3 linked regions of the Homo sapiens genome follow. The protein of the gene in region 1 interacts with the protein of each later gene in a pairwise test. Each region holds a gene or a part of one and is shown on either strand. Other genes may lie near its edges. The genes, in order: VEGFA, U2AF1 and SLC16A2.

Evidence for each region.
Region 2: the proteins of VEGFA (region 1) and U2AF1 interact in a two-hybrid assay, tested with the Homo sapiens proteins (one large-scale study listed by BioGRID).
Region 3: the proteins of VEGFA (region 1) and SLC16A2 interact in a two-hybrid assay, tested with the Homo sapiens proteins (one large-scale study listed by BioGRID).

What each region holds. Positions count from the first base shown.
Region 1 is NC_000006.12:43,776,639-43,780,291, reverse strand, and holds part of VEGFA (vascular endothelial growth factor A, long form), read right to left. Parts: intron 2,824-3,653; coding exon 2,627-2,823; intron 1,833-2,626; coding exon 1,756-1,832; intron 1,404-1,755; coding exon 1,374-1,403; intron 1-1,373.
Region 2 is NC_000021.9:43,097,534-43,101,186, forward strand, and holds part of U2AF1 (splicing factor U2AF 35 kDa subunit), read right to left. Parts: intron 2,987-3,653; coding exon 2,920-2,986; intron 1-2,919. UniProt on the Homo sapiens protein: Plays a critical role in both constitutive and enhancer-dependent splicing by mediating protein-protein interactions and protein-RNA interactions required for accurate 3'-splice site selection. Recruits U2 snRNP to the branch point.
Region 3 is NC_000023.11:74,515,369-74,519,021, reverse strand, and holds part of SLC16A2 (monocarboxylate transporter 8), read right to left. Parts: intron 1-3,653. UniProt on the Homo sapiens protein: Specific thyroid hormone transmembrane transporter, that mediates both uptake and efflux of thyroid hormones across the cell membrane independently of pH or a Na(+) gradient.

The sequences.
Region 1 (3,653 bases):
AGGTCAGAGACCTGCCTGGATGGGGAGCAGGAGTGGGAGGGAGGGCTGTGTATCAGGCCTTGTGCCTTCATTTGCAACTGCGACAGAACCTCTGGGAATCCCGGTGTGGGGGAAGCGGCTACCTTGGGAGCTGGCACGGAACCAAGAGCAACACCAGCCTGCTCAGCACGACCTGGACTGGGAGGCAGGGCTGGGTGTCCTGGAGCCCTGGGCAGGCAGCAGGATGGGGTGGGAGTTAAGGAGGTCTGGGGAGGAGAGGCTTGGGCGGTACTTGGCAGGGAGTTCTCTCCCCAGCCTGTCAAAGCCTGCTACACCATCTCACCAGACACTCTTCCGAGCCCAGGCGAGCCCCCTACTCTCCCCATGGCAGAGCAGTCATTTGGGGAAACAGGAAGGGGGGCAGGCTGTAGCCTGTCCCCTTCAAGAGAACCAGAGCTCTCCATGCCTGCCAAGCCCAAGAGAACACACCTCAGGATGTCTGTCACAGGGAAGAAAGGAGGGGGAGAAGGGACCAGAGAGGGCAAGTCTGTCCCCCTTAGGAGAAAGCACCAAAGGGTGGAAGGAAGGTTTCCGCATCCCCTCGCTCTGGAAGCTGGGAGCTGAGGGAAGAGGCAAGGGGTTGAGGCCTGGTGGGGGCTTCAATGTCCGCACAGCACTGGAGGCAGACAAGATGGTGTGGGGGAAAGGGCAGGGCACAGGTGCTCTCTCTCAGTCTCTCTTTCCCTGCAAGCTCTTGCTGATGCCAGCCGCCCACCCTGTCTTGAAGGGTTACTGCCGCCAGACCTTGTCCCCCACCCCATCCTACCTGCCCCTTAACACGGAGCACTCACAAGCCTCTGAAAATGACCAACATTCAACTTTTTCTCCCTGGCCAAGAGGGCTGTGTGTCTGCCGCCTGCCGCCTACAGGAGGGCATGCACTGAGAAACCACCCTCCAGCCGGCCTCGCATCCAACTGCACCGTCACAGCAGCCACCAAAAGAGGCCATTTCCTCTGACACACAAAAGCTGGCCTCTCTGCCACCCACTCCCTCTCCCCACTGTGGGTGTCCTAGAGCAAGCCAGTGAGCCAGTGTCCACAGTGCCCCCTGACACACCGAAACAGCAAGTCCTGGTCAGGAATGATCTGGAGACCCAGAAGGCATTGTCCCTTCCAAAGGAAGTGCCAGGCTCCTGGCTATGTTTTCTCACTAGCCCTAGAGCCATCATCCTGGAGTTGGCTCCATCCCATTGTTGCTGCCACCACAAGTCCCCCACAAGACCAAGTCCCTGACCCAGGGAGGCTATGGGAGCCCCCAACAGAGGTAGCCAAGAGCCCCAAACCAAGACAACCGGCCATGGAGAGGGAGAAGTGCTAAAGTCAGGGCCACTTACTTTTCTTGTCTTGCTCTATCTTTCTTTGGTCTGCAATGGGTAGGGAGAGAGAAAAGAGCAAAACAGGGAAGGGTTAAGATGGTGATGATAATGATAGGGATAACAACAATAATAATCACAGTAAAAACAGCATTTATTATGGAGCAACACTGTTTTAATCTTTTCATATATAACTTGTTTAATCATTATAACAATGCTATGAAGTATACTACTATTGTGCCCATTTTACAGATGTAGAAACTGAGGCACATTGAAGTAAAATGCCAAAGGTCACATAGCGGGAAGCTGGACGGGGGCCAAAAAGTACAGCATGCTTAACCCTGGCACAGATCAGGCACCCTGCAGCCACTTGCTGATAATGAATCCGTGACTACATCCTCACCTGCATTCACATTTGTTGTGCTGTAGGAAGCTCATCTCTCCTATGTGCTGGCCTTGGTGAGGTTTGATCCGCATAATCTGGAAAGGAAGGAAGCAGATCACAGAGGTTAGTGACCCAGCCAGCCATACCCAGATGGGACAACCCTGGGGCTCCTGCCACTCAGCACCCAGGGGTTCTGCAGAGCAGGGATGGGTGGTGGAGGCAGGGAGGACCAAGAGCTCTAGCAGGAAAGAGGCTCAGGCCCACCCCAACTCCCCCAACCCTGCTGGCCTCAAGGAGCCCTTGTTCCACTTGAGGCCAAGACATGGCTGCAAGGGTTGGCCAGGCTGGGAATTCAAATCCTAGGTTCTTACCACTCCCCATCCCCTCCCCTTCTTTCATCCTCTCTAGGCTTCACCCTGACTCCTAGTAGATACCCGAAAGCAACCCCCTCCCTGTGTTTCACAGCTCCCTCCCACCCTATCTGGGCTGAGATGTGCCCCATTACCAGGTAACACCAAAAGACTTTTTAAACTCTCCATGGACCAGGCTCATCCAGCTTCCCAAACAAAGCCCCCAAGAAGGGGGGGCACTCAGGACTCTCTCCAAGAGAGGGAGAGAGGGGCTCCTGACACAGGCATCCATCTGTCCCCTCCTGAGCCCATGGGCAACCATCAGGGAGAAGGAGATGGTTGGGGCTTGCTGGGAACCTGGGCTGGGAATGAAGCATCTTCTCCACAGAAGGCAAGACCCCACCATACCTCCCCTGTGCAACTCAGGGGCAGGAGCCAGACAAGGCAAATCTAGCCAGGAAACGACCTGGGACCACCTGTTCCCAAAGTGTTACCCCCCTCCCTATCCCCCCCTTGCCCCACTTCCCAAAGATGCCCACCTGCATGGTGATGTTGGACTCCTCAGTGGGCACACACTCCAGGCCCTCGTCATTGCAGCAGCCCCCGCATCGCATCAGGGGCACACAGGATGGCTTGAAGATGTACTCGATCTCATCAGGGTACTCCTGGAAGATGTCCACCAGGGTCTCGATTGGATGGCAGTAGCTGCGCTGATAGACATCCATGAACTTCACCACTGCATGAGAGGCGATGACACATGAGCCCGGTGGGCGACACAAAAGATGGCTAGCCCCTCTCTCCACCCAGCTCTGTAATGCCACTCTTTGGAGCTTCCGAATCAGGCAAGTCCTTCCAAAATCTAACGTAAGTCCCTCCTACTGTGTTTGAAGCACTTCCCTAAGCTTTCCACCATCAACACTGGTGAAGGCCTGTTTTCATTCCAGAGATCACACGATGTACTCAAGTTCCAAGGGACATGGCCTGCCACATCTGATCCCGCCACCTCACTGTGACAGCTGAACTGAATCCTGGGCCAACCTCGATGCCAGAGGACAGTCTGAGTATGGGTATACCCCATGGGGATGCTCTAAGCTTTCCCTAAAAGGAGGAAGAGCCAGCTTTGCCAAGCTAGTCTCCAGTTTCCTACGTCCTCCCCACAACCACTACCATAACGTCAACCATACCAACAGCTGTTTATTGAGCACTTACTACATCCTGAGTACTGTGTACAGTAGTCCACAGCTATCATTTCACACAAGTTTCTCCACATGGTACTATTAGACACTATTGAGATTCCATTTTACAGATGGGGAACAGGAGGCTCAAAGAGGCTAAGTAAGTTGCCCCAAGGCCGCACAGCTAGTAAGTAAAGGAGTCAGAATTAGCTGACATCAAAGTGTTCCCAAGCCTATATTAGGCAAAAACAGAGGAGGCACCTTTCAGGAGGAGGCACCTTTCCCCCTGCCAGTCCTCTTCCCCAGACATGAGCTGAGAAGGTGGTGGGCATCAGCACAGGGGCTGGGCCCTCCTGGAACCCACAGGTGGCAGTGGGCGGACACGCTGTGC
Region 2 (3,653 bases), on another chromosome or scaffold:
TGGGCCGGCTGCCTTAGCCTGTGCACCCAACGTGGGCATCTGACTGCTGGCACACGGGTCTTTGAGCTTGCTCAAAACTCTTTTTATCTTTTTTTTTTTTTTTTTTGAGACGGCGTCTCACTGTCTCCAGGCTGGAGTGCAATGGCGTGATCTTGGCTAATTTTTGTAGTTTTAGTAGAGACGGGGTTCCACCATGTTGGCCAGGATGGTCTCAATCTCTCGACCTCGTGATCCACTTGCCTCGGCTTTCCAAAGTGCTGGGATTACAGGCGTGAGCCACCGTGCCCGGCCCCCTTTTTATCTTTGAAGATAAAAAATAACTTCTTATTTTCTAATTCTGAGAATGATTTAAGTTCACTTTCTAACCTATCCGGGGCTGTTTTAGTTATTTTTGAACTTCCAGGAATCTGCTTTCGAACCCAAATTTTATTAAGTGTAACTACTCGGACAGCCTGCCAATCATATCACAGGATATCCCAATTGGAAAGCTATTGGGAATGTACCTTCCTCCCCGAGTAGAAATCAAGTTATAAACGGCCAAAGTAGCCTATTCCAAAGGGCAGATTTTAATATTTCAAATTCACTTCCTTCCCACATAAGAAGAATGTGAAGAGGAGAAAATTATTCACATGCTCAAAGTTTTAGCAGGTTTGAGAAATGGTTTTGGGGTGATTATTTTAAATTATTGGCTATATTTGTTCTGCTTAAAATGTTTCAATCAAAGTGACTTGAAAGGCAGAGACAACTGCATTAAGATACAATTAAAAACTTATTTGTGACTCAGCCTATGTTAAATACTACAACTTGGAAAATAAAGCAGTTTTCTTACAGAAATATCATTCTTAAACTGGGATTGATAGTTAACTTTAACCCACGCATTTGAAGCTTATTTTTTTACATACTAAAGGGTATGTTGAAAAGAGCCAGTAATTTTAGGTAATTGATTTCTTCCTAAAATGACGAATTAGAATTTCATCTAATTTGTACAATCTGGACTCCAGAATTGGAATATAACGTAATTGCTAAACTTTTAGTTTGTAGCATATGCAAAACAAAAGTGCTGTGAACTGCAAATAAAGACACAATGAAAACTAATACAACATTCTATTGTCAGTCAAGAAAGCATATACAGTCCCCAAATAAACGATCAGGGCAAAGAATTAATTACTGTTACTCAGTCATGTACTTCCATTCACTTTTATCCCAGGGCAGGGTTGTTAACAAAAATTATTTAATAAGTGCATATAGAAACAATTTCCCTCCGCCTATTGATCTTATTTCCTTAAAAAACAAAAGAAAACAAACAAACAAAAAAACAGGTATTTTAAACCAAGGGTTACCAAGTAAATCCTGCTACCATCCGACTCAGGGAAAGAAATCTCTACTATCAGGTCAGTATTAGCACTGAAAAGCATTTAGTGTCTTGGCAGGAAAAGTTGACAAGAAAATCTCATCCACACATAGAAATGTGCACCACTGTGCAAGGAAGCACAATCCCCAGGCCACCCAGTGCAGGGCCAGCTCGAGAGGGGAATGCCCCCTGGGATCAGCTACCCCATGTCGGTCACCCCATTAACTGAGGGGCTCTGGTTCAAGGGTGTACTCAATTTAGGCTTGTGGATATCCAAGGGCACCTCAATTTTTACTGCTTTAAAACAGAATGGTGAATGGGAAGTGCCTATCTTTGGTTTGGACTTTCTGATTTTAACAAGAGTCCAGGTGTTCATTTTAATTTATCCATAAATGACTAAATTCTAATGATTCTATAGTTGGATGGCTGTAAAAATCAAATTTTAGTTTTCTGAACTTCCCAATCATACTCATCTATGATATCTCCTTCTCTAAAAATTATCATTAGGTAAATATTCACAATCTAAATTTAGTATTTCCCAGTACAGGAAGATATTGGTACCATCTACTGAATGCCCAGTTTTGATCTATTTCTAAATGGAGCAAACCAATTCCATCTCCTAGAGCTGGAGACTGTATCCAGGCAGTGTGTGGACAGAACGGACAATCTTTTCTGCCAAGGGCCTATTTGAGTGGAGCACCCCCACACGGGTTAGACGGGTCGGCACGGGGCTGGTGGGTGAGGAACTCAGGGGTCAGTGCAAGCTGCAGACCCTCATTTGGGGAACGCTCTCAGCACAATGCTCTTACAACTACAGGGTGCACTCCAAAATGGAGTTCAAGGAAAAAAGGCTAATGAGAAATAAAATCTGAAAAAATAACTTAAAAAGTTTGCTTTTTAAAAATTCCAGAAAGTGAGAGAAACATTCAAATTTTGTTGCTCTAAGAGGGAAGAATATGACTCGACGTTTAATTCCAGTACATTCCCTCTAGGATGACGGCCAAAGTAAAGGAAGAAGGGGCAGCAGCAGCTCCAGACTGTTTTTTTTTTTTTTTTTGGAGACGGAGTCTCACTCTGTCGCCCAGGCTGGAGTGCAGCGGCACGATCTCAGTTCACTGCAACCTCCGCCTCCCGGGTTCAAGCGATTCTCTGCCTCAGCCTCCCTAGAAGCTGGGATTGCAGGCATCTGCCACCACGCCCAGCTAATTTTTGTATCTTTAGTAGAGATGGGGTTTCACCATGTTGGCCAGATTGGTCTTGAACTCCTGACCTCATGATCCACCCGCCTCGGCCTCCCAAAGTGCTGGGATTACAGGCGTGAGCCACCGCGCCCGGCCCAGCTCTAGACTGTTTTAAAGGGCACCCTTTCCAGTTACTTTTTCCCTTTTAACACACGGTGGGAGTTCAAATCTCCAAAAGAGGTTTCCATGGGGTCAGTGGGACGAAAGCTCCTTGCCACCTCTAGTGAAACGCGGTCCTTGACACTAGCACGGCAGACCAGATGGAGTGGACACTGAGCTCTGACACGCAAGCCCAGGGAACCGGGGAAGGAACTTGTATGAACTTACAGCGCAAACCGTCAGCAGACTGGGAAGAGTTTTGAGGGTTACGGTAAATGTTCAAGAGGGCAATGGTCTGAAATACAAAACGCAACAACTTTATATTATGGAAAATTAAAGGTAAACACTTAACCGGCTGCCTCTGGCAAGTGCTTCAGTTGAGATTCAGTGCTGAAAAGAGAGCAAGTTATTTTCTGGAGAAGCAGAGGCGTTTTCTCAGTTGGCGGCTGCCTTGAATCCCTAACACTGCGGTGTAACGGAGGTCTCATGATATGCCCATCTTGTACTTCTGCTTACAGAACGTGAAAACTCTCCTTTTCAAAATTCCAATTCAGGTAAAAGCACAAATAGTTTGCCAGGCTAGCACCAAAATGTTCTTAGATGTGGCAGAAAATTTTTAATGAACTCGGAAAGAATAATGCTTACATAAACTGATGGAAAAAATTACTGTATTAGAGAAATACAATTGTTACATATCATGAAATCTCCACTTCCTGGAGGAAAAATTATAATGGTGAAATAAAACCCACACTTACTGGGCAACTTACCTTATTGATTCCTTAATATTCCTAAGAGTTTTAATTTTACACAAAGAACTTAATAAAGGCCAGGGGTTCAGTCACTGTAAAGACCAATGAATGGCTCAAAATGTTGAAATCCGTTTCACATGGACGGACCTGCTCTCATGACAAATGTCAATCAATGGAGGTGGCCGGGCCAGTGACCCTCCCTAGAAGGGATAA
Region 3 (3,653 bases), on another chromosome or scaffold:
TAGGCAAAGATTTTGCAGATATTCACAAATCGTATGATCCATAAAAGAAAAGATTTGATATATTAGACTTGATCAAACTTGAAAACTTCTGCTTTTCAAAAATAGTTATGAAAATGAAAAGGCAAGCCATAGACAGAAAAATTTTGCAGCACACAAAATCTGACAATAGACCGGTATCCACCATACAAGAGTGAGTTGACTCTCATAACTCAATAATAAAGCAAACAATCTAACTTAAAATATGGGCAAAAGAATTGAACAGAGATTACACAATTACACATGTGCACATACATTTATGATATGAATAGTAATTAAGCATATAAAAAGATGCTCAACATCACTAATAAGTTGAGAAACGCATATTAAAACCACAATGAGATAGCCCTTACCAAGAAAGCCTTTTTTCTTTTCTTTTTCTTTTTTTTTTTTCTTGAGACAGAGTTTCATTCTGTCTCCAGGCTGAAGTGCAGAGGCGCAATCTTGGTTCACTGCCACCTCTGCCTCCCGGGTTCAAGCAACTCTTGTGCCTCAGCCTCCCGGGTAGCTGGGATTACAGGCGCACGCCACCATGCCTAATTTTTTGTATTTCTAGTAGAGATGGGGTTTCACCACGATGGCCAGGCTGGTCTCAAACTCCCGGCCTCAAATGATCCACCTGCCTCAGTCTCCCAAAGTGCTGGGATTATAGGCGTGAGCAATGGTGCCCAGCAAAGAAAGGTTTTTACAAAATGATAATACCTAATACTGGGAGGATATGGAGGAACTGGAAATGTAATACGCTGCTGGTGGCAATGCAAAACAGTACTCACTTTGGAAAACAGTTTGGCAGCCTCCTGTGAAGTTAGTCATACATTTACCATGATCCCGAAAACCCACTGCTAGATATTAACTCAAGATGAATGAAAACTTATGTTCACACAAAAACCTGAACCTAGATGATTACACTAGCTTTTTTTTTCATAATTGTGCAAATCTGGAAACAACCCAAATGTACTTCAACTGGTGAATGGATAAACAAATGAATACACATTAATACAATGGAATACAACACAGCAATAGACAGGAATGAACTACTGAAACTTGAACAATCTCAAAGGCGTTATGCTAAGTAAACGAAGCCAGACTCAAATTATTCCTTCCACTTACAGGAAATTCGAGAAAAGACAAAACTATGGGGACAGGAAAACAAATCAGTAGGTGGCAGGAGGAGGGATGAGGGAGACAATTGACTACAGAGGGACATGAAGAAACTTTTTGGGGGTAATGAAAATGTTATCAAGTTTCATCTTGAGTCTCTCTTTTCTAAGCTTTATATGTTACATATCTTGATGATGGTGGTATTCTTTTGTCAAAATTCATAGAACTGAGCATGTAAAAAAGGGTGAATATTACCATATGTAATTATATCTCAATAAATCTGATGTTATTTTTAAAGGTGGGGAGAAGGCGGGAAAGCAGAAAGTGCCAGTTCAAGATCTCATTTATGATATATGTATCTTTATTCTGGCCAGAGTAAAAAAGTAGCTCAGTTGTATTGTCAAAGAGAAAAAAAATAATTAAATTTAGCAAATCATCTTACTGACATTTTATAACTAGAACTGACCATTATTTGACCCTTCTGAATGTCTATGATATAATGAAAACTGATGATTATTCTTATAAGGAATTTTTTGTACAGTCAAAGAAACTTTAAATTATGTTTGATATAGCTTTTAAAAATTAATCTATTTCATTTAAAAAAAAATTTTTAATTGTGAAATAACTATAGATTCACAGGAAATAGCCAAGATAGTCCAGAGAGGTCCCATGAACTCTTCACCAAGTTTCCCCTTATGTAACTATAACATGATATCAAAACCAGAAAATTAGGAGTGGCACAATATGTGCATATAGTTCTGTATCATTTTATCATGGGTAGATTCCTGAAACCACCATTGTGATCAAGATACAGAACTATTCCATCACCACAAAGATCTCCTTTGTGTTACAGTCACACTCAGCCCACTCCCCCACGACCCATAACTCCTAGCAATCACAAATTTGAAGAAAGTTATATAAATGGAGTCATACAGTATGTGGCCTTTTGAAATTGACTTTTTTTTACCCAGCATAATTCCCTGGAAATACATATTTGAAGTGAGTTTCTTATAGACAGCATATAGCTGGGTCATGATTTTTTTTTCTATCCACTCTGCCAATCTCTGTCTTTGAACTGATATATTTAGATCGTTTACATTTGATGTAATCATTGATACATTAGGGCAATTTTATTTTTGTTTCCTGTTTGTTTTCTGTTTTTAGTTTCTCTGTATTCTTTTATCCTGCCTGCCTATGGGTTACTTTAAAAGTTTTTAGAATTCCACTTTATTTATTGTGCTTTAAAGTGTGTTCCTTTGTATACCTTTTTTAGTGGCCACTGAAAAATGTACTCAAAGAAATCACATTATATATATATAATGGTATCACATCATATGTATACAACATCATTGGTGTCGACATGTTACTAGTTGGAGAGGAGTGTAGAAACCTAACCTCCCTTATATCTCCTCACCCTCCCTCATTTATAATAAAATTATCTTAAATATTTCCTCTACATCTATTAATAACCACATTAGGCATTATTATAATTTTTCTTCAACTGTTAAACCTAATTTACAAAACACAAAAGGGACCAGGCACTATGGCTCATGCCTGTAATCTCAGCACTTTGGGAGGCCAACGTGGGCAGATCACTTGAGTCTAGGAGTTTGAGACCAGCATGTGTAATGTGGCAAAACTCCATCTCTACAAAAAATCAGCTGGGCATGGTGGTGCACACCCATAGTCCCAGCTACTCAGGAGGCTGAGGTGGGAGGATCACCTGAGCCCAGGAGGTTGAGGCTGCTGCAGTGAGCCATGATTGTGCCACTGCACTCCAGCCTGGGTGACACAGTGAGAGCCTCTCTCCAAAAAAAAGAAAGAAAAAAAAACACAAAAGGAGAAGAAATCTAAATCAATTATATTATAATATCTGTCACATTTATGTATAATTTTACTTTTTCCACTGTTCTTTCTTTCTGATGTTCCAAGATTCCTTCTTCTATTGTTTCTTTTCTGGTTAAATAATTTCCTTTAGCTATTCTTTTAGGGTAGGTCTGTTGGGGACAAATTCTCTTAGTTTTCCTTCGTTTGAGAATGTATTGATTTCCTCATTCATTCCTGAAGGATATTTTCACTGGATATACAATTCTGAGCTAAGAGAGCTTTTATTTCAGCACTTTGCCCTCCATGGTTTCTGATGAGAAATCTTCTGTCATTTTAATTGTTTTTCCCCTAGAGTTAACGTGTCATTTCTCTCTTACTGTTTTCAAGATGTGTGTGTGTGTGTGTGTGTGCATGCACGTGCATGTCTGTGTGTTTAGCTTTTGAAAGTTTGACTATGATGTGTCTTGGCATAGAGTTCTTTGAGTTTATTCTCTTTGGGATTTGCTCAGTTTCTTAAATCTACAGACTTATGTTTTTACCAGAGTTGGGAAGTTTTCAGCAATTATTGCTTCAAGTATCTCTTCAGCCCTGCCTTTTTCCTCTTCTGGGACTCCTCTGATGACAGAAATGTTAAATATTTTGTTATAACCTCACAGGCATCTGAGGCTCTTTCCATTTTTTTCAATCTA